Homo sapiens: one gene and its partners. The protein of the gene in region 1 purifies or fractionates together with the protein of each later gene. This does not show direct contact. Each region holds a gene or a part of one and is shown in the gene's direction. Other genes may lie near its edges.

Region 1 (3,787 bases):
CTGCCAAGTCCCTCTTGGGCAGCTGGGCTGAGGACTGGAACATTCTGTGGCAAGCAGGAGGCCTCAGCAGAGATCACCAAGACCCAGCACACCTGGTGCAGACAGCCACGGCATCCTCCTTCCTGCAGGTCACCCCCACGAGCCACTTAACCTCTCAGAGCCTCTGCTTCTCACCTGTCAAGTGTGTGAGGTAGGGTACCAGTTAGTCACGGTACTTGCTGTCTCACAGAGGAGCCGACAGGTGAGAACAGTGTGCATGTGGGTGTGAACACTCAGTGTGGAAAGCAGGTGTGTGTGTATTCAATCCCCCAATGGTGTCAAGGGCTCCTCAAAATGCCATGGGTCCCCAGGTCATTGTGATAAACACTGTCCCCATCCTGCTGTGGTTGTGGCTGGAAGGTCCCTCAAGGAGTAGACTGTCCCTGAGAACAAGATGGATGCAGGGTAGTGACGAGTTCAAGCATAGCTAGAGTTACTGTTTTTTAGCAACTCAACCTGATTTTTTAAGCTGCCTACTTTTACTTTTTACTGTGAGCTTCTGTCCATCACCATGTAATTTGTAATAATAATAATACAAAAAGAAAAACGAGAGAGAGAAGAGGACAAGATGTCCACAGAGGAATCTGCATTCGAGGCTGTTTGCAGAACTACCGCGTTTGTAAGGACTGTTTCCCACTGGGAACTGTGTGTAATTAATGAGCAGTTTTATGCTTTCCCTCTCGTCTGTGTACGGTGTGATTGTTGTGTGTTTCAGAATCTCTATTCAGAACCAATAGCTGGTAATGCCTGCTGGCTCGCTGCCCTCAAGTTAGCCTCTGAACGTGCCCTGCACCTAGAGAAGCAGCCTTCTCACCCGCCTCACCTGGCTGCTCCAGCGGCCAGGCCAGCCACCTGACCATGACCATTGCTGATGTGCAACAGGCCTTAATTGAAAAAACACACAAGTACATACATGCACATGCGCGCACACACACAGGTGATTTCACAGGTAGATCTGGTCCCTCTTGCTGTCTCCAATGCTCTAGAAAGCAGCAAGTAGGCAGCTGACAGTGTTCCCAGGGTGAGTGGCATCTCCCCTCATCATCAGAAAGATTCAGTCAAATTTTGGCCCAGAGCTGAAGAGGAGGACTTGGGAATGTCAGGGAAAACATGACAGGGCTAGGGGTTAACAGGCTTCTTTGGCCAGGAGATGGTTTCCAGTTCACCGTCAACCCAAAAGCTCTCTTCAGGTCATGGCAAACAGACCAGGGCTGTGGGTGTGGCTGTGCTTGGCACTGACTCCCCCACAGGCCGCTGTCCAGGTTGGCTCAGGATTCCAGCTGCCATCCCCAGGCAGGCCCCTCCGCTGGCTCGGCTGCTTTCACAATCACCATGTCTGTCTATTAGAGACTGTGCCATTCAAGGAGACGGGGTCCCCGGGGGTGCAGACTTGTAAAATTTTTTAATTTTTCAACTTGGCTGAACTGGTCCCCATCAACAGGAAAAGCCTTCGGAAGTGAATTTACAGATTTCTCCCATGTTTGAAATTAACATAACATGAACCCAGAAGGCAGAGCTTGCAGTGAGCTGAGATCGCACCAGTGCACTCCAGCCTGGGCAACAGAGTGAGACTCTGTCTAGGTAGGTAGGTAAGAAGGAAGGAAGGAAGAACAGACCTGGATGGAGTTATTGGGAACATGTCTTATCAATGTTGAAGGGCCCCCTATCACTGTAGGGAGACATCCACGTGGGTTGTTTTCGTCTGCTGTGAAAATCTAGGGTTGGAATCATGGAAGCAAACTGCAGGAATTCTTAATCATCCTGCTCACGTGGTGGGCATCAGAGGGTGTCTGCTTGGCCCCCACAGCACTGGGACAGTCAGAGAGGCCATGAGTGGATGACGCCCTGATCACTGCCCTTTGCAGTCCAGGAATACCTCACTGGGCTGGGGCCATACCCTGTGCCCTCTGGAAGACAAGCCTGCGCACTTACTATGTGCCAGATGCCATGCACAGTGCCCTAGTTCCTTGCTGTAGCACCAACACGTCCCACGCTGGTGCTTAAATGCACGCAAACAACTTTGGTGGTTGTGGCCCGAAAAGCTCAAATGTTAAAGTTAAGCAGTCAGGCAAGCTAGAAGAGGTGAGGAGCCTCCTAGAAAACTCATTCGATGACACGCGCTTCCCTCACCTATTCAGATACTTGCCGAGTGCCTGCCACTTGCCTGGCCCTGTACCCAGGGCCCATCTGGGAGCCATTCCTGCTATAGCTGGGACCACTTGTGAAACGGCTAGTTGTGCCTAACAGACATGCTCAGATTCACAAAATGAATTCAGAACACTTACCTGTCCCACCCGTGAAAGTGACCTTGGAGGTGTCATTGCCCCCCACCACCCCAGTTTCTAGTCCAAGCCAACAGCTGGTGCTAGATAGATGCTTGATGAATGAGCAGATTTGACTGTTAGTTACTCTGTACCTAAAACTCCTATCTTTACATCAAAGCCCTGACAGATTTGCCCTTGACAGACTGAAATCCGGGGCTGCTGCAGGGTTCACCTCCAGGAGGCACCATTCACGACACTGTCCCATAAATGGTAATGGGCTCCCAGGGATACTGTTTACATAGACTGCACTGAGAACGGTGACCCTTAGGTTTGTACAATGAGGTACCCTGTTGAATGACCCTAAACCAGCCTCCAAAATGTGCAGGATCCCACATTGGTCAGCGCCAACCCTGAGCACAGGATCTAAAACTATAGATGATATGGCCACCCTGGCCACAGCTGGAACCAAGCTGGTGGCCCAAGAGAGAGCCTCTTCTTGGAATTGCATGTCAGTTTCTCATACGCAGTTTCTTCCTATTTTTCCCATTTCCCGTTTTAAAGCTAGTGGCATACCTCACAGTCAAATAACCAAGTGGTCAGTGTCTCGACAATGTGCAGTAACGAGGTGGGGGCTGCAAGGGTGAGGGGCTCAGTCACCTTAACAAGGCAGGAGACCTCCCACAAAAGGCTGATGTGTCGTCCCCAGGGCCAGCTGGACAAGGGCATGCAGCGCAGGGGTAGGGGGATGGAAATATTTTCTCTCCCGTAAACTCTGACTTCATGTGAGCAGGCATGGGGTCTCCCTGAGAGCTGATAACCGGGAAAACCAAAACCAATAATATTCCTAATAATAATACTAGAATGTAAGAATAATCATGTGTTTTTCACTGACCGCTGTTGCTCTGCTTTTGTCTTTATATACAGTAGTTTTTATAACAATGTCCCTAGGTTTTAATAAAGGAGTGTCATGTCAACTGTTCCCTAGATTGACGTTTGCTTCAGTGTTTCAAAATGAGCTCAAGGGAACCTGTGCCCGCATAATTTGTCACTCTTTTGGGGCGGGTGGAGGACCAGGGGCTGGGGTCCCAGCCAACGTGGTGTTAGGGGGAGCTGGACACACGAGTCCATCCTGAACACTCAATGCCAATGGCAGGTGGACGCCACCTCCAAAGGGGCAGGGGCAAGGTCAGAGAGGAGTGACAGAGCCCTGAATCTGGCACTAGCACCCAACAAGACAGAGCTGAAAGCACGTGGAGGGTGGGGGGGGCGGGCATCACTGCAGATGGCATGCCATCCGTGGCCCCTGGTGTGACATGCCAGGTGCCTCTTGTTTGTCATCTCATTGGCGAGGGGACAGAGTAAGCTCCTTTAACGAGCACTGTGCTCCTGAAAAGCTACCATCCCTCACACTGGGACCGTGTGTCCTTCACGCTGGACACAGAGTCAATTCTGGCCCCACCTGCCAGCAGGAGGAGTGAGGATGC
Region 2 (3,500 bases), on another chromosome or scaffold:
ACAGCACTATTGTTCTGATAGGGGGTTGGGGAGCAGGCCCCTGGGGCAGGAAACTGGCCCTCTTCCCCTGCTCAGAGGCGGGATGCTGGCCCAGCCAGGGGAGCTGGCAGCCCTCTTAGGAGAAACAGGTGCAATGCTTTGTAAGGACGCCCAGGTGGTCCCCTCCCCCTGCAAATACCCGCCAGGCAGGGACCAACCCCTCTTAGGAAATCCAACAGTCCCAGTCCCCTCTAAATCCCTCTCTCCAGAATTCTAGATTCCTCCAAGGTTGTGCCACACAAAGAGAGGAAAAAAAAAAAAAGGAACAATTTCTCCGTGGTTTCTGGAGGCCCTGTGCTTCCGGCCAGATCTGCCCTGGGCTTAGAGCCAGAAGAGAGGGGTGGCAGTGGGGAGCTGCAGGGGGGCAGAACCGAGGGGGCTGTCTCAGAGCTGAGGCTGGGTCTCAGGGACTCAGCCCTCCGGATGAGAGCAGAGAAGGGTGTGACTCAGTCTTTGAGGATTGAATGGTAGTTTCTACATTCTTCCAGATCTGGGGTTGGGGTTGATTGAAGTTGGTTTCTAGGACAACACCAGGTGGGTAGGAAGGGAAGGGGAGGGGGCACTCTCTAGAGGCTAGATGTCTTTTTCTAGACACCACACACACACACCCACACACACACACACACACACACACACCTGAAGAACTATTTTTGATGTGAAATGGGACAGGAATAAGAAGGAATGTGAGTTTCAAGGTCCCCCTTCATGGGTATGGGTCTTGGGAGAAGAGCTGAGGAAGAGGGTAGACACCAGCATCTGGACAGGGTTGTCCTGTTGGGGAGAAAGAGAGCATTCCTGGGGACCAGATGATGGTGTTTTTTTGTTTGTTTGTTTGCTTGCTTGCTTGTTTCGAGACGGAGACTCGCTCTGTTGCCCAGGCTGGAGTGCAGTGGCGCGATCTCTCAGCTCACTGCAACTTCCACCTCCTGGGTTCAAGATTCTGGTTCCTCAGCCTCCCAAGTAGCTGGGATTACACACCCAGCTAATTTTTTGTTTTTTTAGTAGAGACTGGGTTTCACCATGTTGGCCAGGGGGTCTCAAACTCCCGACCTTCGGTGATCCACCTGCCTCAGCCTCCCAGAGTGTTGGGATTACAGGTGTGAGCCACCGCACTGGGCCCAGATGATGGTTTTGAGACTTCTCCAGAACCGACACATCAAGAGGGACTGATTTGCAGGGGAAGGAGGCTAGGAAAATTGGGAATCAAAAAAAAAAAATGGTGGTTTTGAAGGAAAGGTGGAGGGCCAGGCGGAGGGAGACCTGGGATCTCACACCGCTTTTTCCGTCCCCCCTGACAGTGGGCGCTCTACCTGTTCCTGGTTAAATGCACGATCAGCATTTCCACCTTCTTACTCCTCTGCCTCATCGTGGCCTTTCATGCCAAAGAGGTCCAGGTAGGGCAGGCCCCGCCCCTAAGCCTTGCTCCCTCCAACCCCCTCAGCGCCCTGTCAGCTCACACTTTCCACCCTCCTCCTCCTCCTGATCTGAGTAATGAAGTTCTTCTGCCCTAGGTGCTGCGTCCACACCCTCACCTACCCAGATGGGATGAACCATGAGCAGACAGGCAGAGCCTCCCCCACCAGCTCCGCCTTCCCCTGTAGTCCCCAGCCCCCCCTTGCACACTCACGGATGCTGAGAGTGCCCTTGCAGCCCTGCTTCCGCCCCCAGGCCTCTGTCCACTCTGCTCCCAGGCACTCAGCTTCCCAGATCTCTGTGCTCCGACATGGCATCCCCAATCCAGTCCTCAAGCAACCTAAGGTCCTAGGGCTGCCCACTCCTTTTTTTTTTTTTTTTTTTTTTTTTTTTTGAGACAAGGTCTTGCTCTGTTGCCCAGGCTAGAGTGGAGTGGCACGATCTCTGCTCACTGCAACCTCCACCTCCTGGGTTCAAACAATTCTCATGCCTCAGCCTCCCAAGTAGCTGTGACTACAGGCAGATGCCACCACGCCCAGCTAATTTTTTTGTATTTTAGTAGAAACGGGGTTTCACTATGTTGTCCAGGCTGGTCTCCAACTACTGAGCTCAAGCAGTCTGCCCACCTTGTCCTCCCAAAGTGCTAGGATTACGGGCTTGAGCCACTGCACCTGGTCCGGTCCCAGGGGTGCCCACTCCTAATCACCCTATCTCTGTGCCAATAACCTCCCTCTTGCCCCAGACCCAGGAGCTCTCCCCATCCATACCCCACCTTGGGTCTCACCCAGACACATCCCATCCCCTATTGTCCCATTGCCCCAGATCCTGTTGCTCCATTCCCTTTCCCCTCTTCCCCCTCTCCTATCATAACTTTGCATGTAAAATGGGGATTATTGGCCATGTGTGGCAATTCTATGAGCAGTGCCTGGCACATAAGAGGTGCTCAGTAAACAGTGCACATTATCATCTTATCATAGAGTAGCTAAGTAGCCTGTAGCCCAGTGCGCCATTGCCCATGGAAGGGACCTGGGCCTCAGCTTCCACATCTATAAAATGGGGGCAATAATAATATCAATCTCACTGGGTTGTGGGCATTTACTAAGTCACAATATGTAAACGGGATAGAGCAGTACCTGGCGTATCCACGGTGCCCAGTACATGCTGATTTTGTTATTGTTATTGTTTTGTTTATTTTGAGATGGAGTCTCGCTCTGTCACCCAGGCTAGAGTGCAGTGGCATGACCTCAGCTCACTGCAACCTCTGCCTCCTGGGTTCAAGTGATTCTCCTACCTCAGACTCCCCAGAAGCTGGGACTATAGGTGTGCGCCACCATGCCCGGCTTATTTTTGTATTTTTCAGTAGAGATGGAGTTTCACCATGTTGGCCAGGCTTGTCTCAAACTCTTGACCTCAAGTGATCCACCCACCGCAGCCTCCCAAAGTGCTGGGATTACAGGCGTAAGCCATCGCGCCCGGCCCATGGCTTTGTTATTGCTGATATTATTATTACAGTTATTACGCGTGTCAACCGAAAGGGGAGTAGGAGCGAGCTCCAGGCATGTGGAATGCAAGCTCTAGGGAGGCAGGGGGGTCTGTTGGGTTCACTGTGTATCCTTAGCACATAGAACAATGTCAGGCACACAGTCGGCGCTCAGTCAGTGTTCAAAGGCTGGAAGTGGGCTGAAACTAGTGGGGTGGGTGGTGGGGAAGGAGGAAAAAGTGGAAAGATGTCTTCCTCAAGTCCTGTCCCGCTCCCTCCCTATCCCTCTCCCGCCCTGCACTCCCTCCCTCCTGGCCAGGCGGCACACCCCACTTATCTCAGGGCGCAGGCAGGCGCGGGCCGCCGCCTGACCTGCGCCTGACCTGCTCCTGACCCCTCCCTTCTTGGCCCCCTACCGGCAGCTGTTCATGACCGACAACGGGCTGCGGGACTGGCGCGTGGCGCTGACCGGGCGGCAGGCGGCGCAGATCGTGCTGGAGCTGGTGGTGTGTGGGCTGCACCCGGCGCCCGTGCGGGGCCCGCCGTGCGTGCAGGATTTAGGGGCGCC
Region 3 (3,500 bases), on another chromosome or scaffold:
CACCCTCATCCTCACCCGCAGCCTCACCCTCAGTCCTCAGACACTGGGGTCTCCGGCTGTCTCCAACCCTTCAGTTCTTTTCAGTAGCCTCCTTCCCACCAGCATCACACAGAATTAGACCCTGGGACTACATTTCTGGCGGAAGGTGACTGCTTTTTCAAACCACGTGCCTTCTGCAGAAGCCGCTCCCCACGTAGCCCAAGCGTAGGGTGAGACTTGGCACCAGTGGCTGGGGTCGCTTTTGGGTGCCAGAGAGCCCAGATTCCTCTCCCTCCCACGCGCAGCCAGGCCCTTCCTGCCCACGGACCTTGCCTTTTCTTGGTGGTTTTTCTAATCTGGCAAGCCTTGGGGGGCACCTGAGGCATTGCCCCTCTGGCCCAAGCCGCAGGGAGAGCTTGCGATGCTTTGGGTGGCGTGTGTCGTCCAGTCTGCCCCAGGCTCACTTGGGGCCCTTGCATTTGCCACTGGACTCTGCCTTTCGGGAGGCGCTGTGGACCTGAGATTTGGACCCATGGGCCTAGGAGGCCACCTGGGAGGAGAGTGGCCCAGCTGTGCCAGGCAGGTTCCTCATCTGGACAGAACCTGCTCCCTGCAGCCTCTCAAGCTCCCCGAGGGCCCTTCTGGGTCTTGTCTCTCCCACACATTGGGGGTCAGGTTTGAGCCCCTTTGCTGGCGGACCTCTGAGCTGCCCGCCCTTCCCTCCCACCACCCGCCCTGCCTCCTGTGGTGCACAGGGCTCTCCTGGAGGAGGGAGGTCCTGGGCATCCCCTGCCTCCTCACCTTCACCCTCAGGAGTCCCAGAGCCCTGGCTGCTCTGCACAGCAGGCTGGGAAGCAGGCCCTGTGCCCAAGGACTAGCCTGAGAACTGGGGAGGTCCTTTCCTCTTCCCCAGAGGACAAAGAGAGCTGTGAACACCACGGGTCTGTAAAGGGGTCCCCCCACATGCAGGAAAACATGAGTTGTGGCATCACTTACGCCTTCACTCACCAGTAGCCGAGGCACAGCGGGGGTCCTGAGCATGGGCAGGGCAAGCCACTTCCACCCCAGCCATGGAAGGAGGCTGAGGAGGCCAGGGCAGCAGTGGGGACCTGCGGCAGGCAGGGCCTGCAGGGCTCCGGGGCCGGACAGGGTGGATTTCCATTCTGAGTCTGTTTCCCATGAACTCCAGTGCTGACTGGGCCCACTTTGAGTAGGACGCTCAGTGGCTCATTCTCATTCTCATGATGTCTCTGTTATGGGTGGAAACTGAGGCAGAGAGAGGCCCGTGACCTGCGTGGCTTGGAGCCAGCCTCCGTCTTCTTCTCAAACATGCCCTTGAATGGCAGGAGAGTTTTCAGTTCCATGGATGGGATGATGAGTCGGAAGGAAGAGTAAACCTGCACACACCCGTGGCTTCACCCGTCCTCCCCACGCTCCCAGGTTCAGTGGGTGGAGACTGGGTGCAAGCAGGTTGAGGGACAGGTCCTTCTGGGCTGGCCCTGCTGCCGCACCCTGGCTCCCTCTTGCTCAGACAATCCTTCATTGTCGGCCCCATACAAAGCAATGGCTTCCTGCCTGCTCGCCTGTGCGAGGTCACCAGGTATGCAAATTGGGGTGTACCAGGCACAGCTGAGGCCCCCATATGCTGATCCCAGAGTCTGTGCCTCAAGCTAAAGAAGTGAAAGCTCCTTTCATTCATTCATCCAGCTTGAGGAAGAGACCCTGGAGTGAATTTGGAGATAGAGGAGAGAGTCCCAGGTGTCTTGGGGGGCTGGTGTGGCAGGGGAGGCAGCTGAAGATGGTGTGGGGAGCAGGCAGGTGCTCAGGGCGGGGCTGGGTGCAGGGCAGGCATGTGGCTGTGGCTGGCAGCCTCAGAGCCGTCAGGTGCCAGGAGGAGGGACTCGGCTTTGCCAGGCAGTGCCTGGGCTGGAATCTGAAGAGAAAGGAGAACTGAGACCCTATGGTCCTGCCTGGCCTCCAAATTCTGAGTGGGGCCTGGAAGCCGGGACTGGGACATCCCCTAATGTGGAGGGGTGCTACCCACCCAGCCCAGCTCCAGGCCTCCCTGGGGACATTTGCTGGGCCACAGTAGGTCAGCCAGGCCAGGCCCAGGGGCTGGCAAGCTTAAAATAGTTTTCTCAGAGATCCTGCGTCCTTTCCACGCACTGCGCTGAGAGCGCTTTGCAGGGAGCCAGGCTGGGAAGTAAGTGCATGGGGCCTAGGGAAGTAGGTGGGCTTCTAGAAGTGGCACAGGCCGGGCTGTGTCAGCTGCCCACACACGGGGATACAGGCTGGCACCCCAGTTCCCACAGTCTGGGCTGTGCCAGCCACCCGCACGTGGCCACTAGCTCCTCCCAGGTCACTGTCCTGGCTTGAGAGGAGGGGGAGGAAGAGGTCAGCCGGATTCGCCTCTAAAAGACCCTAGCAGAGGAGTCAGGGCCTCCTATCCCGGAGATGCAGCTGACTGACCAGGCCAGCATGAGGAAATCGGAAGAGAACTCTGGCCCCCATGGCCTCCTCCTAAAATAGCGGGCACTGACCCATACACAGGCGCACACGCACGCATACACCCTCCCCAGGCCTGCCCCCAGCCGGAGGCTCCAGGGACACATTATCCCCCGGCTGATCGCCTTGGCCTAATTCACACCCTGGCTGCCAAGGCCTCTGGCAGCAACATCCCCCCTTCCTCCCCTGCGGGGTTGTTGTGGGTTAGAGCAGGGACAGGGCCTGAGGGGGCTAAGCTCCCAGGGAAAGGGCAGCTGGCTCTCTAGATGCACCGGAGGGGCGGGGTGGTTTGCGTTTCTCTCGGGCTGAGAGCCACCTAAGGCTCCGCCTCAGATGTTCTCCCATGGACAGAGGCATCAGGGCAGTGGGGAAAGGATGGGCCGAGAGGTGAGTGGGTGCCCTGGGGCGGGGCAGCCACAGGGGGCCTGAAGTGGCTCACGGGCGGGGCCACCAGTCAGGGCTCCGGGCCTGGGCACATGGGCAGGCTCTGCTTCCAGGGGCTCCTTCCCACCTGCCGGCTGCATGGGAGCCGTGTGGCCGGAGCCCCAGGGGAGACCTTGTCCCTCATTCTGGAGCAGCCGTCAGGAGTACAAGGCCATGGGAGAGGACCCTACTCCATGGAGGTGATGGACCCTCCTCCCGTGATGGGGCAGATTTCAGTAACTGTGTGTGCACAGGAGAGCTCAGCTGGTTCAGGCCTCCAGAAGGTTCCTGGGCAGCGATGGTGGTGGTGTGCTGTCAGAGCCTCCTCCCTAAGCCTGGCTCCCAGGGCCTTGGCTGATGACTGGAATTCACTCCAGGCTCCGGGCCTCTTGTCCCCACCGGCCAGGCGGTTCTGATTCGCAGCCATGGGCAGCTTTTGCACCCAGCTCTCGAGTGACCGCCCCTGGGCTCCTCGTGGGTGCGACAGTGTCCTGGGAGTCCCTGAAGCCCAGGTTTCCCACATAGCAGGCGTTAGGAAGTCGGTACCAAAGTATGGAAGGACTGGCTTGTATTAGTCTGAGTTATCCAGAGAA
Region 4 (3,500 bases), on another chromosome or scaffold:
GGGGTTTCACCATGTTGGTCAGGCTGGTCTCGAACTCCTGACCTTGTGATCCGCCTGCCTCAGCCTCCCAAAGTGCTGGGATTACAGGCGTGAGCCACCGCACCCAGCCAGCACCGGCTTATTAATGGTGAGATGTTAATGGGAAAACTGGGCCTGTGAGATATGGGAGCTTTTACTATTTTTACAATAATTCTGTAAATCTAAAACCATTCTAAAATTAAAAATTTATTTTTAAAATGCAATATATTTGTTTTCCTTTTAAAGCACTTCCCTCATTCTTACCCAACGGGACACACCTTCTCAAGTACTTAAGTAATTCTTTTTTTTTTTTTTTTTTGAGACTGAGTCTTGCTGTCACCCAGGCTGGAGTGCAGTGGCGCGATCTCAGCTCACTGCAACCTCTACCTCCCAGATTCAAGTGATTCTCCTACTTCAGCCTCCCGAGTAGCTGGGATTACAGGCGTCTGCCACCACACCTGGCTAATTTCTTATATTTTTAGTAGAGACAGGAGTTTCATGTCGGCCAGGCTGGTCTCGAACTCCTGACCTTTAATGATCCACCTACCTCAGCCTCCCAAAGTGCTAAGATTACAGGTGTGAACCACTGTGCCCGGCAAGTAATTCTTATGAACAAATTAGCCTTATAAAGTTGTCATAAACATTATGTGATGTGTGGCCAGGTTAGAGTCCTGTGTGACCCGGTCTGAGCTGGCCTCTGGGCAGCATGCCGTGTGGGGGCTGCCACAAGCTGATTCAGGGAGCACCGGCCTGGGGTGACGCACGCCTGTCGGGCGGAGGGCGGCCTGGGGTGACACGGATGGTGGCCTGGGATGACACGCGCCTGTCAGGCGGAGGGCGGCCTGGGGTGACACGCACCTGTCTGGTGGATGGCGGCCTGGGGTGACGCGCGCCTGTCGGGCGGATGGTGGCCTGGGGTGACGTGGATGGCGGCCTGGGGTGACGCAGATGGTGGCCTGGGGTGACGCGGATGGCGGCCTGGGGTGACGCAGATGGTGGCCTGGGGTGACGTGGATGGCGGCCTGGGGTGACGCGGATGGTGGCCTGGGGTGACGCGGATGGTGGCCTGGGGTGACGCGCACCTGTCTGGTGGATGGCGGCCTGGGGTGACGCGCACCTGTCGGGCAGATGGTGGCCTGGGGTGACGTGGATGGCGGCCTGGGGTGATGCAGATGGCGGCCTGGGGTGACGCGGATGGCGGCCTGGGGTGACGCGGATGGCGGCCTGGGGTGATGCGCGCCTGTCGGGCGGATGGTGGCCTGGGGTAACGCGGATGGCGGCCTGGGGTGACACAGATGGTAGCCTGGGGTGACGCGGATGGCGGCCTGGGGTGACGTGCGCCTGCACCGGGAGCAGCTTCCCTTGGCCAGTGCCCATGTTCCTCTTTTCATTTTTATCTTTTCTGGGGAGGGTAGGGGGACGTTTTACTGTCTTTCCACTGAATGTTATGACCCTCCCCACGCCCCTTGGAGGCACAGCTGAGGTGGGGCCTATGTCTGGCTCCAGGGGGCCCTGAAAGGTACTTTTTACACCTCCCACCCCTCAGCACTGAGAGACCTCGGGAGGGGTACCGGTGACAGGGACGCGGGCCCCACCTTGCTGAACCCAGCAGCGAGGGCATCTCTGCCTCTGTCCCTGGAGGCTGACAGCGGTAGTGTGGGAGCTGGGGCCTGGGTGGAGACCGGGTCAGAAACTCAGGTTTCGCCTGGGTGGGCCATGAATGTCCTGCCGAGGGTGAGACCCTCAGGGCTCTGGGTGGAGAGCAGCACCTGCCCAGAAGCAGTAGACCCTTGTCCCGGCTGCACCAGGGGCCAGCGACCTTGTGCCCTCCTCCATCCTGCAAGCCTCGGGCGGTGCTTGGCCTCACCTGCCTCTGTCTACTCAGGACTTTGAGGCCAGGCACTCCTGCAGGCAGAGAGGGGAATTTCTGAGACTGAAGTTGTTACTGGGTATTTTTTAACAGCGCTGTCTTAAAAAATAGATAGCGTGTCTCTGTGGCCCCGTCTATTCTTGCGGCCACACGAACGTGCGTGTGTGTGTGCAGCTTCCCTCACGGCAGCCAAAACCCAGAGGCCGCCCAGCGTGCGAACACGCCAAGGTGTGACTGTCGGCACGGCACTGCCGAGCCGTGGGAGGGACTGGGTGGTGCAGCGGCCAGTGGATCTCAGACCCTGAGCTGAGCACGACTGGAGAGGATGGGTGCATCCGAGCGTCTGCAGAGCACAGAGCGCGTCCGCAGAGCGGGTCCACACCTTGGGTGCAGCGAGCGGATGTGAGCAGTGTGCCTGTGACCAGGGCTGTCTGCACATCCGCCGGCCTAAGCTGCTGCTCACCGAAACCCACTGGGACTCTGGCTGAGGCCGGCCCCAAGGAGCTTTGCCGAGGAGGGAGCACCTTGCCCCTGCCCAGAGCGGTCCCTCGCATCCTCCTTCCCGTGAACCTGCATCTTTGGTTGCAGTTACAGCTCTCACGCTTCCATCTTATGAATCACAGGAGTCCCGTTGGTTTTGGATGAGTTGACACCAAAAAGACACAGGAGCTCTCTAGAGACACTTCCTGGGGGTCCTGCCGCGTTGGAGCAGGGAGGCAGTAGCTCCTGACGCCTTCCCTCCTACGTGGGCTTTGTGATCACTGATGGTCACATGCGGGGCATTCGGTGGCCTCTGTGTAGAGCCAGTGTCTTCCTGATGTGACACTGGGAACCACCAGCAGCCCAAGCACAGGGACCTTCTCCTGGCCACTGGGCGGGCTGCAAATGTGAGGGCGAATGTTGGGTGCAGGGTGGTGGAGGTAGCTGGGCCTTCCCTGCCGCGGAGGAGGCAAATGTGAGCGCGAATGTCCAGCCCAGGGTGGTGGAGGTAGCTGGGCCTTCCCTGCCGCGGAGGCGGCAAATGTGAGGGCGAATGTCCGGCCCAGGGTGGTGGAGGTAGCTGGGCTTTCCCCGCGGCGGAGTCGCCCAGCTCTGCCCGAGGCCCCTTCCTCCCGCCCCAGCATCAGGGGCTGTTCCACAATGGGTGTCTGGGGGTCCCTGCAGCCTCCCACCTCCCTCCTGGGAGAAGCCTGCACACACTGAGGGGCTGTTTGTTCTTTATTTGCAGAGGTATTGTGGCCAGTATTTTGGTTTTCTTATGTTTTGGAGTCACACAAGCTAAAGACGGGCCATTTTCCAGACCTCATCCAGGTAACTTGCCATTTCCTTTTCCGTGTGCCCCTGTGGCATTTCTGTTCTGAGCGGCCACTCTGTGTCTGTGCTGCTGGGTGTGAGTGTCCTGTCCTCCCCTCCGCCTGGCCCCTCCCCGAGGCCTCCGAGGCCACTTCCCACATGGACAAGGGCGTGGGGTTCTGAGCTGGCCGTGTGCTCCTCCTCCAACCACCGAGGGTCTCTCCAGGCCTTCTCTGGCCCTTTCACTCTTCCCTGTCCAGGGCTCTCCAGCCCTTCTCTTCCTGCTTCTGCCTCCTCTTTCCACAGACCAGAGTGGCCG
Region 5 (4,122 bases), on another chromosome or scaffold:
CTGTGATTGACACCTGTCATCTAGCTGTAATAGATGTTCATAGAGATAATGAAGAGTTAACTTTCAGTTGTCTAGTAAAAAGAAATCCAGCAGAAATCAGGCTGTTTCCCAAAACACACCCTGAACCCAGATCCCTGCCATGGACAGAGGGTCTGGGCAACTCTGCCCTTTCCCTGGTCTTGGTCTAGCCCCTTCTCCCTCCTACAGCGTGAAGCACATCTCCTGTCCCCTGCTCATCCTGCACGCTGAGGACGACCCGGTGGTGCCCTTCCAGCTTGGCAGAAAGGTGGGTCCTGGCCTCTGCCTCTGGTGTAGCTGGCATCTTGCACACTCAGCCAGTGTGGGTGGACCAGGCTGGGAGTGGGCAGGCGGGAAGGCAGCCCCTGCATGCTGCATCACGGGCTGCGCACCAGCCACGTCAGGCTCAGGAGGCCACCTCATCCTCCCTGCGTCACCTCCAGGCTGCTTCGGAAGGACATGGGAGGTCTGGTGTAAAGGTTGGGGCAGGGGCCCACTGATGCTGTCTCCAAGAATATGAAAAATAAGCAGATAGTTCCCAGTCCTCACACAGGGGTTATCAGAGTGGGCTGCCTATGTTATCAGAGCCCAGGCCAACCTGGGAACTCAGCTGGAAGGGCTCATCAGTTATGGGCTGAAGGCAAAGAACCCCTTGATGAGGATCTCCCAAGCCCATTGCAGGGGTCACAGTCAAAATTGATAGAGAAACTTCTAGCCTGTTTCCTTGCCTTTGGAATTGCGCTGATACCAGAACCAGACCATGCTGTCTGTGGGGCCTCAGTGTTTGCTTTTGCTGAATTTGCTTTGACTGTCAGCAAGTTGGATTGGATTTGTGGCTCAGAGTAGGGTAAGAGAAGGCAGCCTGGGTCTTGGTAATGGCAGGGCAAACTAGTTGGGTGTGTGCAGGCCTCGTCCACGGATTCAGCCCAGGGCTGGGAGCACTTCCTGCTCTGACAGCCCCCATGCAGTCAGGCTCCATAAGGCACACAGATGACGGAGCCACACAGGGCAGGGGCAGAATGCAGAGCCGCCCAGCAGCGCACAGCTCAGGCCCACCTACCCTTGCCGAAATGAGAGGGGGAGGGGGCTGAGATGGGTACATCAAGCCCATCTTAGCTAAGCCTGAGGCACATACCTTTTGTCCCAGCTCCCCAAGACTGTGCCATCCCTGCCATCAGAGCCTCCCAGGCACCTGGTCTGGCTCATCCACCTAGCCACTCCCCAGAGGAAGGGTAGTCTATAAGGTGTGAGGACAGTATCTTGAGTGGTGTGTGCCCAGGAGCCAAGCCTGGGGCCTGGCTCCTCCCAGCCCACCCCCGGGCCTCCTGGTCGTGACCGGCTGTGGCAACAAGCAGTGTATGTGGGACTCTGGACTGGTTTCTATTGAAGGGGAGGCTGCCAAGCTGGTGTTCCTCAGGCTGGGACCCCCATGCCAGGCCACTGCCTCAGGCTCTGACCCCTCTCTCCCCAGCTCTATAGCATCGCCGCACCAGCTCGAAGCTTCCGAGATTTCAAAGTTCAGTTTGTGCCCTTTCATTCAGACCTTGGCTACAGGCACAAATACATTTACAAGAGCCCTGAGCTGCCACGGATACTGAGGTGAGACATTCTCTTCCCACCCAGGGGCTTCGTCTGGGCAGCACTGGCTCACACCTAACGTGCAGCAGGTGGCAGCTGCTGAAGCTGCTCAGGGGGCCTCAGTGGGGCCAAGAGTCACAGTGATTTGGGAGCCTTCCATTTCCTTGGCAGAGGGGTTTGAGGGAGTGCCTCTCTCCTGCTCCAGGACTGTTCACATGATCATGCAGGGTGAGCCGCCTCCATGTTGTAAAGGATGTACAGACCCACACGGGGGGGCACACACGCTCACAGGTGGCCATGTTTGGGAACACTCAGACACAGACACCCCAGCCACTTGCAGGCCTCGGATCTCTTCCACACACCTCTCAAGACGTACACAGCTCCTCAAAAGCCTCTTTGTCCCCAGCTGCTTCTTGAAGGGACGTGGTGCTCCTGACTGCCCTGCACTGGCAGGACATGGGCGCCAGCCCAGAGAGCCATGAGTACCCACCTGGGCCTGAGTGCAGAGCCCAAGCCTGAGGGTGAGGCCTTGGCAGTAGTGACAAGGGCAGTGTGTGGAATGGACCAACCCCCGGCCTCCTCTGTACTGCCCTGGGCCCTATGCAGGTTGCTGCCCAGACTCGCCTACCTGCCTGTCAGAGGACACAGGCCCCCACCCCACTGCCTGGCTGTGTGGCCTTGGGCAAGATGCTAACCCTCCCTGTGCATGGGACAAGGCTTCTGAGCCGAGGAGGGCATGTGGTACTTCGACCCTAAGCACTGGACCCACGGAGGGGCTGCTGCTAATGGTGATAGAGTTTTTTGTTGTGTTGTGCCAGTCAGCTCCAAAAAGTAGGTCAAGGTGCCAGTTTCTCCCTGCAGGGGACTGAAATTGGTGGCCTGAATTGCCTCCCAGTGCTGTATATCCCGTGAGTAATTCTACTGCAAACTTCTGCTTTTCTCCAGTTGCCTTTGGAAGTTCCAGAGGCAAAACTGTGTCCCTTTAGCACAGGTACCTGGGTTGCTAAGGGGGCAGTGGGCTCAGAGTATGGGTTTGCTTTGCGGTTATAATTTTCCCCATTATAAAAGGAAGATATGTGTAGAAAATTTAGACCAGAGAATAGCTCTGAAGTTGAGGGTCAAGAATCAGAGACCTTGTCTCCATGCCTGTGTGTTGGGCTTTGACTTGGCACCACACTGCTTGTTCCCTGCCTAACTCACTGAGTGCTGCTCTGGGCTACAGCGCATCCTCATGGGGCTCTTGGCTGCCTCCTCTCTGCACAGCCTCTGCTTCCTTAGATAGCAGTGTGAGGACTGTGGAGAAGGATCTTTGGTCTGAGCTCAAATGATTGGCTCCTGATTGTCCTGTGGTCTAGGGAATTCCTGGGGAAGTCGGAGCCTGAGCACCAGCACTGAGCCTGGCCGTGGGAAGGAAGCATGAAGACCTCTGCCCTCCTCCCGTTTTCCTCCAGTCAGCAGCCCGGTATCCTGAAGCCCCGGGGGGCCGGCACCTGCAATGCTCAGGAGCCCAGCTCGCACCTGGAGAGCACCTCAGATCCCAGGCGGGGAGGCCCCTGCAGGCCTGCAGTGCCCGGAGGCCTGAGCATGGCTGTGTGGAAAGCGTGGGTGGCAGGCATGTGGCTCTCCTTGCCGCCCCTCAACCTGAGATCTTGTTGGGAGACTTAATGGCAGCAGGCAGCCATCACTGCCTGCTTGATGCTGCACTGAGCTGGACAGGGGGAGTCCGGGCAGGGGACTCTTGGGGCTCGGGACCATGCTGAGCTTTTTGGCACCACCCACAGAGAACGTGGGGTCCAGGTTCTTTCTGCACCTTCCCAGCACATGCAGAATGACTCCAGTGGTTCCATCGTCCCCTCCTGCCCTGTGTACCTGCTTGCCTTTCTCAGCTGCCCCACCTCCCCTGGGCTGGCCCACTCACCCACAGTGGAAGTGCCCGGGATCTGCACTTCCTCCCCTTTCACCTACCTGTACACCTAACCTGGCCTTAGACTGAGCTTTATTTAAGAATAAAATCGTGGTGGTGGTCCTTTTGTCTCTCTGCAGCGCGAGAAGGGTCAATGTTGCCTCCTCCATGCCCCAGAGCCGCCCACAGCCTAGCCTCTAGCCGCTTTGGAGCCACTCCATGACTCAGCCTCAGACTATGAAATTTTCTAGTCCCAGCAGCTCAGAAATTTGCCAGGAGTAGGAAGTTTTGTTCACCTGCTCGCCCCTTTCTCCAAGTTGCAGTCCCAGCATCAGCAGCTGTGGGCTGGCAGGGAGCCCAGAGGTCCTCGCGGTTACACTCCTTCACTGGGGTACCCTGAGCTACCTATAGCGGTTCTCAGATCTACAAAACACTTTTCCTACGCAGGGGAGCAGCTGAGTAGACATTACTTCTGAGGTCAGTTCATGAGAACACTGGTCCCCCTCCTGGCCAGGGTGTGCCCCAGCTCCTGGTCCCTAATTAGGGTGTCATTTCTGTTCCACCCACCCACGGCCCCAGAGACACCACCTGCCCCAGGGTTGGGATCTCCTTGCATGGCCATC
Region 6 (3,500 bases), on another chromosome or scaffold:
GCATTCAAAGTGATTAGAGCAGTGCCTTTAACCTATGGCCAATATTCAATAATAGTGATTAAATAATAGGTAAATTTGCAAAAAAAAAATTAGTAAAAGTTAATAAGTCATTAATTGAATACTTTCTAAAATTATCACATAGATTGTTTATTAGATTATAACAAGAATTTCTTGAGGTAAATGGGGACAAATAACTATTTTTGTTGGCTTGTTATCACAACTCAACCTTTTGTCAAAGCTGAGAAATATCTAGGAGAAGAAGACAAAAGAAGGGAAAAAGAGTTTTCTAAGACCATAATAAGCTGAGATAGCAAACCATAAGAGTGGCAGCAGTGATTAGCTGCATTAGTTTAGATAGTAGTGAGCACCAAAATATTGTTAGCCGAGAAGGGATCAAACTTCCAAGATACAGGAAAAAGCAAATTCTGTAATACAGAAGCTGATAGCTATATTACAAGGGGACCTATGAGCATCAGTGGGCCGCAAAGTCATACCAACCACGGGCTAACGCCACAGGGCATAGAGATGTTCAGTTCCATTTTTCTCAGAAGGTCCTATATTACAGATAGTCTTTAATAGTCTGCATGTGAGTTAGAGGACATAAAGGAGTACATATATATTTTAGAAAGATCTCCATCTAAAATAACTTAAATATTTATATAAATTGGTAGTTATTTAGTGAATTTATATATAAATTCTAGTTTAATTTATTCACAGTGCTATTTAATGTGTTTAGAGTAGTACCTCTTTTTTCATCTAACTTTCATGAACACATGTTGTGATCTTTTAGCACTATGATGCCATAATGAGGTATATTAGCCAGCCACCTCTTCTACTTGATGTGCATATCCACAAACCAATGCTGAATGCTCGGACTTGGATGGATGCTTTGCTTGCCTTCTTCCCAGGCTTGCAGGTATAAAGAATTCTGTCTTCTTAATATGAATGTAAGATGATGATGTTAATTAGGCGCATTTTTGATCTTTAAAACTGAACTACAAAACATAGTTGCAGTTCAGAATTGTATTTGTATACATTTTTCTGTTTATGTAATGATTAGAGATAAAATCAGCTCATATTTTATTAGGTAATTTTATTGTTGTTGATTTCTAGGTGTTAAAGGGGGATATTAGACCTGCTATTGAAACTCATGAAATGTTATATCAGGTGATTAAAAAACACAATTTTCTACCAGAGGTAAGCAAATAATTTTTGGAATAATCTTACACACACACAAACACACACACACACACACGTACACATATACACTATAAGTTGCTAATATAAAGGTAGAAAATGTCATCTTCAAGGCTTGTTGGTTCTTTTTATTTTTTTCCTATTAAATAGTTTATTTTTGGTTTGTACAGTATTATATATGTTTTTGCTTTTCTTTGTGTGTTAAGAGAAGTCTGATTTAGGGTAATGCTGACATTTTTAAAATTTTATGTAAAAAAATTCCCAGCTTAGTTCTTCTCAACTCTTCCTAACTTATGCCATTGTAATATTCTCTCATTCTAACTCTTGTATGTACCTACCAGCTAGGGAGATTTTGTCACTTTTTATTTTCTAAAGCTTGTCTTATGAAAACAGTATATATTAGATATACTTTTGTTGTTCACACATGCCCTCTGGAAATGTATAGAATGCCATCTCTTCCTCATGCTGATTGAGAATTATTCTTCCTGATTTTTATACATCATATTAGTAATAAATATTCTTGCTAGCTTAATATGACAAGATTTTAATAGCATACTTTTTGGCTTCCCAGAAATGTACCGTTAAAAATTTCCAAATGTGTGTATGGCCTTGTTCTATCCCCGCTTATTGACTACCCTCTGTGAGATATCTAAGCATTCTACCAACTTAGAAGGGTTCCTAAAGTGTTTGTTTTGGAAAGTATAGTTTTATTAGCCTTCGGGTGAGTAGGACTGTGCATTGTAGAAAATTCATATCCATACAGAATAAACTGAGGTTTCAATTAATACATCTATCACAAATGAAATTTTTATTTAGCTCCCATAAAAGTTTTTGTTTGCTTTTATTTTTATTTTCTTTTAAAAACCAATTGATTATGTTATTGAATAAATTTCAAATAGACTAATTTTATTTATTTCTAAATAATGCTCTGTCTTATTCCACAAAGGATTTGAGGCTTTTAGAAAATATAAGCTAAAATATGAAATATGTATGCTTACACATTGCTAAGAGAGATTTTAAGTATTCTCACCACAAAAAAAGAGAACTATGTGAGATAATGCATATGTTAATTAGCTTGATTTAGCCATTTCATAGTGTATAAATATATCAAAACATCATGTCATATACCATAAATATATGTCACTTTTATTTGTCGATTTAAAAAATTTAAAAATAAATATGAGAACTAGGAGAGTAATAATCCAGAGGAAAAAGTAGAGGGAAGGATAAAAAGAAAACACAATTATGTTTACCACCAGGACCCATGTAGTGGCATTGCTGAGTTTCATTATGGAGTTTTTCTGAGTTTTCTAATAGCCAGAATGATCACTGAAAAAATAATCAATTTAATTGGTAAAAATAGCAGCCTTTGCAAAATGAATTGTTATTTTAAGCAATGAAAATTGATGTTTTATTGATGAAAATGTCCTGATTGCTATTTTAATTGCTTTTACCTATTTATATATATTCTATATATTCTGGAACTACTTGTGTATTTAATCACATTTTTTATGCCTTTTGTATGTTGTTTTGTTCAGGCATTTACCACAGATTTCAGAGTACACTGGGCTCAACATCCTTTAAGGCCAGAATTTGCAGAAAGTACCTACTTCTTATATAAAGTAAGAAAATATACCCCATTTTACTTAAAGTTTAGCCTCCATTCTCTGTTGGATCTCTCATTCTTTCATAATAGTAATTGGGTTTTCAGAGTCCCCTTTTAATATTATAATGATTGGATATATCATGATTCTTATTCATCTAGTCCATAGAATTATTGAATGATGCAAGAATTGACATGCAAGGTTTTTTTCTTTAAAAAATATTATGTAAACATTTCTTTAAAGAGAAATTTTATGTTCTAGAGCTGCTTTCTAAAGCATGTCTCTTGCCTTTCTTCAGGCAGCCTTTCTGAGCATTAGAAATTTAAAAACTAAGGTTATATAGTTAAATTTTATAATTGTGTATTTAAGAAATTCTGTAAAGCAGATTCATAGCTTTTTTTCAGAACTCAGTTCTATATAATGTCCTTCAGTGCCTGATACAGTGCCTGGCACCTAGTAGGTACTCAATAAATATTTGGTAAATGAATGGATATGTGGTAATATATAAGCTATATATATTATACATATATTCTCCTTTTTAATAGGCTACAGGAGATCCTTACTACCTTGAAGTAGGGAAGACACTTATTGAAAATTTAAATAAATATGCTAGAGTGCCTTGCGGATTTGCTGCCATGAAGGATGTTCGTACTGGAAGTCATGAGGACAGGTAAAACAATTGCTAACATCCTCTTTCCT
Region 7 (3,986 bases), on another chromosome or scaffold:
CCTTAAGACCAGTTTGAAGGGAAAGGCCACACCAGGGCATCCCATGGAAGCAGTCTACACTCATGTCTATCCCATTCAGAACCATTGAAGTCGGCCCGGCACTGTGTGGGGAGGCAAGACCAAGGAGGGGCTCGTGTCCAGGTTACAGCTGGGTTTGGACTTGGTTTATGCCAATGCTAGACCTGGCTTGGGAGGAGACCTTCCCTCAGGGTGGTGCAGCATGGTGGAGTGAGGAAAATACAGGATCTGATGTTAGAGAGATTTGGGTTGGAATATCAGTTTGCAATATGTCAGGCAGTATGTTTCTTTACTTTTCTGTGCTATAGGATCCCCCTTGCAGAATTAGCACTAGGATTTTTTTTTTGAGATGGAGTTTGCTCTTGTCGCCCAGGCTGGAGTGCCATGGCGTGATCTCGGCTCATTGCAACCTCCATTTCCCGGGTTCAAGCGATTCTCCTGCCTCAGCCTCCCGAGTAGCTGGGATTACAGGTATGCACCACCACGCCCGGCTAATTTTTGTATTTTTAGTACAGACGAGGTTTCCCCATGCTGGCCAGGCTGGTCTCGAACTCCTGACCTCAGGTGATCCCGCCTCAGCCTCCCAAAGTGCTGGGATTACAGACGTGAGCCTCCGCTCCCGGCCTTAGCACAAGGATTAAATGAGATGTTTATATGGCGTTTGGCATAGACACTGTCAAAGAGTAAATGGGCAATAAATTATAACAATGATCATTGGGGGCTGGCTATTGGAGAAGAGCTGGCTCTCTCCAGAGGAATTCGGATTACCTCCTTCTAGGCCCTAACCCCATTTACTGATCCCACAGGCCCCGCCCCGGCTCCGCTAGCCCCGCTTCCTCCTGTCGCTTTGGCCTCCGGCATGACGCATGCGCCCTCGGGCTCCTCCGCGGCAGCATCTCGGTTCTCCTCTCGGGCCCATCTGGAGCCTCGCGTCTTTTCCAGTGTGGGCCCCGCCCCCTGCCGGTAGAACCCCGTCCCCGGCCGGTAGGGCCCCGCCTCCCGAAGCAGTTCCGGTTCGGCTCCGAGCAGCTGCCGGCGCGGCGGTGACGGCGGCCGGGACGATGCCTGCGCGCAGTCGCCACCGCCCCCGCCTCCACTCCGGCTCCCCGCCCCGGGCTCCGCCCCCGCCGCTTGAGGCGCTTCACTCCGGCGAGGCGGGGAGGGCCCCGGACTCCGACGGCGGCTCGGACGCCGACTCGGAGGTGGGTCCGGGGAGCCCGACTCGGACCGCGGAGGTGAGCGGGAGCTGAGGCTGAGGAGAGGGGAGCTTGGGGGGCGCCTGCTGCCAAGGGTGAGTGGGGAGTCTGGGATGGAGCCGGGGGCTGCCGAGGGACCGCGACCTGGAGGGGCCCCGGGGAGACGGTTGAGGGAACCGGGATAGTCAGCTCTGGAATGGAATCTGAAGCAAATGGAGGTTGTCGAACTGAGGGCCTGAAGGCTGAGGGATAAGTGGAGGCCGAGGAACGAGAGGGAGAGAGCGAGAGGGGGAGGCTTGAAGAGCCCAGAGCTTGGGGGCTTTTGAAAGCTGCGCAGTGGGGGAAAAAGATCGAAGGTCCTGCGGGAATGTGGACCCGGAAGAAGAGATGCTCTGGGTTTGGCAGCGGGGATGAGGAGTCAGAGGAGCAAGACCTGGGCCGGTGTTCCCTTCCCAGGGCGAGGGAGGGCGATCGGGGCTGGGACTGGAGCCCTCTCATGGGGTTCTCCTCTTACGGAGCCCTCTTATCCGCCTCCCACCCCGGGTGGGGCTGGTGGTGATGGAGGGCAGGATTTAGGTTTGACTAGAAGGAGGAGGGCTGTTGGATGGGAAATCGTCTGGCCTCAAGGGGTGAGGGAGGCACTGAAAAAGAGAAGTGTGGTCAAGAAAGAAAAGGAGCCCTTGGGGATCTAATTTTGGGCTTTGGCATTTTTACAGGTGCCTTTTAAAACATCAAAGATCACTAGGGCAATGTACTTGGATCGTGGGGCTTTCTCGTTCGTGCACAGTGGATCATTTTAAGAATCTTGGGTGGAAGGGGCGGTGTGAATCACTGATTTGCCTAAAGGACTGGGGGAAGTAGTGGAGAGGAAGTGATGTTTGAAGAAGGTAGTGGAAGACGTGATTCTGAAAATGAAGATATCATTTGGATTTATTGACAGTAATGGTGTCCTTTTTTTCATTGTAATTTTTTCGTAGCTAAGTTTAAATACCAGACATGTTAAGATCCTAAAAATTTACTATATTACCTTTAAGTTTTAAAAACTTGAAACAAGACTTTGGATACTCAGATTTTAAAAATTAAACTTGAAACAAGAATTTGGACACTTGGATTTTACAGATACTCAACATGGACTGGTTCCACTTTCAAAGTTTTAAGTTGACACATGTATTTGCCACATAGTAAATGTATGGTCAATGCAAGTTTCTGGGTGAAGGGGGCACAGTGAACTTGCCACAGTCTAGGCGCAATACCAAATCTTCCTCTCACTGATAACCCCAGGATTGGACTTATCTCTTGAAAATTGGAGAGGTACCTTTGACTGATTGGCAAAACCAATATTGAAATACTATTTTGCAGGTATTGTGTGAATAGTATTTTTAGTAGAGTGATTTGGAAAAATAAGGACAGAGGATGCTTGTAGTTGGCAGCCAACACAACTGGGACAGGTGGGTATACAGATGCTTTTTATAGAAGACATAGTTCCAAAACATAATTATGCCAGAAAAAGAATGATTGCAATATTTATATTCACTTTAGTAGAGATAAATTGACTTCCTTTTGTGATTGTTAAGTCATAACATGGTTCCATGAAGTCTTTGACTTTAGCCACATGTCTCATATGTTTTACAACTTTTTATGTGATTATAGGTTTGTAAAGTTGTTGGCCATTTCTTTTCTCTTCCTTCTTTTCTTTTCTTTCCTTTCTTTTTTTTTTTTGAGACAGAGATTCGCTGTGTTGCCCAGGCTTAAGTGATCCTCCCACCTCAGCCTCCCAAGTAGCTGGGAGTAGCTGGGACTGCAGGTGGGCGCCACCATGGCTGGCTAATTTTTGTTAGCATCAAGCGTTTTCTAAATGCTTGATTAAATCTAAATGGATATCTACTGTTTAATCTTCATGAGATGATAATTTGATTTGCAACAGCTTTTAAATTAGTTTATGTGTATGGGCTATGTGACATACCCTCAGATGCACAGTGGAATAGTAATTGTTTCTTCAAAGGATATGTGAATTCTTAGCTAAAAATGCTGAGATTGTTAAAGTATTAATTCCCTTTTCTTTAACTTAATACAAATTATCTTCAGTTGAAGTTTATGTAATATTACTGTTTGTTGGTTTTATCTTTAGAGTGAGATCCTCTGGAGACCTTATCTTCATACTTAGTTGTGAATAAAAGTCATGGCATGTAAAAATTTGCTGAACTGCAATATAAGAACTCTATTAAGATTACAGCTTAATGTTATTGCAAAATTAAAGAGAAACTGTTAGATGGAGTTGTACAATTAACATATTAGCATGTCTAATAGTTTTTTAATTTTTGTTTCCCTTTGTCAGTTCTCACACCCATTGAATAAAGAAAATCAGTTTTTGGCTAGGTGTGGTGGCTTACTCCTGTAATCCCACCACTTTAGGAGGCCGAAGCAGGCAGATCACTTGAGGTCAGGAGTTCAAGACCAGCTTGGCCAACATGGCAAAACCCCATCTCTACTAATACTATAAAAAGAATTAATCAGGTGTGGTGGCTCACACCTGTAATCCCAGCTACTCAGGAGGCTGAGGCAGGAGAATCTCTTGAACCCGGGAAGCAGAGGTTGTGAGCTGAGATCACACCACTGCACTCCAGCCTGGGCAACAGAGTGATATGTCTCAAAAAAAAAAAAAAAATCGGTTTCTCTAAGGCAGAAGAAGCCATCATGACTGCGATGGCAGAATATGCAGACATATTTAGGTAAATCAGTTTTGATTTCAGTACCATAACCCCCCTTCTGCAA

The links.
Region 2: the proteins of SHISAL1 (region 1) and KCNN4 purify together in Homo sapiens (affinity purification with mass spectrometry; one large-scale study listed by BioGRID and IntAct). This does not show direct contact.
Region 3: the proteins of SHISAL1 (region 1) and SLCO4A1 purify together in Homo sapiens (affinity purification with mass spectrometry; one large-scale study listed by BioGRID and IntAct). This does not show direct contact.
Region 4: the proteins of SHISAL1 (region 1) and PTDSS2 purify together in Homo sapiens (affinity purification with mass spectrometry; one large-scale study listed by BioGRID and IntAct). This does not show direct contact.
Region 5: the proteins of SHISAL1 (region 1) and ABHD12 purify together in Homo sapiens (affinity purification with mass spectrometry; one large-scale study listed by BioGRID and IntAct). This does not show direct contact.
Region 6: the proteins of SHISAL1 (region 1) and EDEM3 purify together in Homo sapiens (affinity purification with mass spectrometry; one large-scale study listed by BioGRID and IntAct). This does not show direct contact.
Region 7: the proteins of SHISAL1 (region 1) and SAMD8 purify together in Homo sapiens (affinity purification with mass spectrometry; one large-scale study listed by BioGRID and IntAct). This does not show direct contact.

Annotation. Positions count from the first base shown.
Region 1 is NC_000022.11:44,243,165-44,246,951, reverse strand, and holds the end of SHISAL1 (protein shisa-like-1 precursor), read left to right. Parts: 3' UTR 1-3,287; downstream 3,288-3,787.
Region 2 is NC_000019.10:43,774,474-43,777,973, reverse strand, and holds part of KCNN4 (intermediate conductance calcium-activated potassium channel protein 4), read left to right. Parts: intron 1-1,337; coding exon 1,338-1,433; intron 1,434-3,354; coding exon 3,355-3,500. UniProt on the Homo sapiens protein: Intermediate conductance calcium-activated potassium channel that mediates the voltage-independent transmembrane transfer of potassium across the cell membrane through a constitutive interaction with calmodulin which binds the intracellular calcium allowing its opening.
Region 3 is NC_000020.11:62,645,503-62,649,002, forward strand, and holds part of SLCO4A1 (solute carrier organic anion transporter family member 4A1), read left to right. Parts: intron 1-3,458; exon of another isoform or gene 3,459-3,500. UniProt on the Homo sapiens protein: Organic anion antiporter with apparent broad substrate specificity.
Region 4 is NC_000011.10:470,779-474,278, forward strand, and holds part of PTDSS2 (phosphatidylserine synthase 2), read left to right. Parts: intron 1-3,116; coding exon 3,117-3,199; intron 3,200-3,500. UniProt on the Homo sapiens protein: Catalyzes a base-exchange reaction in which the polar head group of phosphatidylethanolamine (PE) or phosphatidylcholine (PC) is replaced by L-serine. Catalyzes the conversion of phosphatatidylethanolamine and does not act on phosphatidylcholine.
Region 5 is NC_000020.11:25,299,714-25,303,835, reverse strand, and holds the end of ABHD12 (lysophosphatidylserine lipase ABHD12), read left to right. Parts: intron 1-207; coding exon 208-286; coding exon of another isoform or gene 287-538; exon of another isoform or gene 539-1,489; coding exon 1,490-1,617; intron 1,618-2,457; coding exon of another isoform or gene 2,458-2,479; exon of another isoform or gene 2,480-2,504; intron 2,505-2,951; coding exon 2,952-2,991; 3' UTR 2,992-3,622; downstream 3,623-4,122.
Region 6 is NC_000001.11:184,716,859-184,720,358, reverse strand, and holds part of EDEM3 (ER degradation-enhancing alpha-mannosidase-like protein 3 isoform 2 precursor), read left to right. Parts: intron 1-790; coding exon 791-916; intron 917-1,113; coding exon 1,114-1,197; intron 1,198-2,735; coding exon 2,736-2,819; intron 2,820-3,346; coding exon 3,347-3,471; intron 3,472-3,500. UniProt on the Homo sapiens protein: Involved in endoplasmic reticulum-associated degradation (ERAD). Accelerates the glycoprotein ERAD by proteasomes, by catalyzing mannose trimming from Man8GlcNAc2 to Man7GlcNAc2 in the N-glycans.
Region 7 is NC_000010.11:75,110,470-75,114,455, forward strand, and holds the start of SAMD8 (sphingomyelin synthase-related protein 1), read left to right. Parts: upstream 1-1,186; 5' UTR 1,187-1,253; exon of another isoform or gene 1,254-1,309; intron 1,310-3,986. UniProt on the Homo sapiens protein: Synthesizes sphingolipids through transfer of a phosphatidyl head group from a glycerophospholipid on to the primary hydroxyl of a ceramide in the lumen of the endoplasmic reticulum.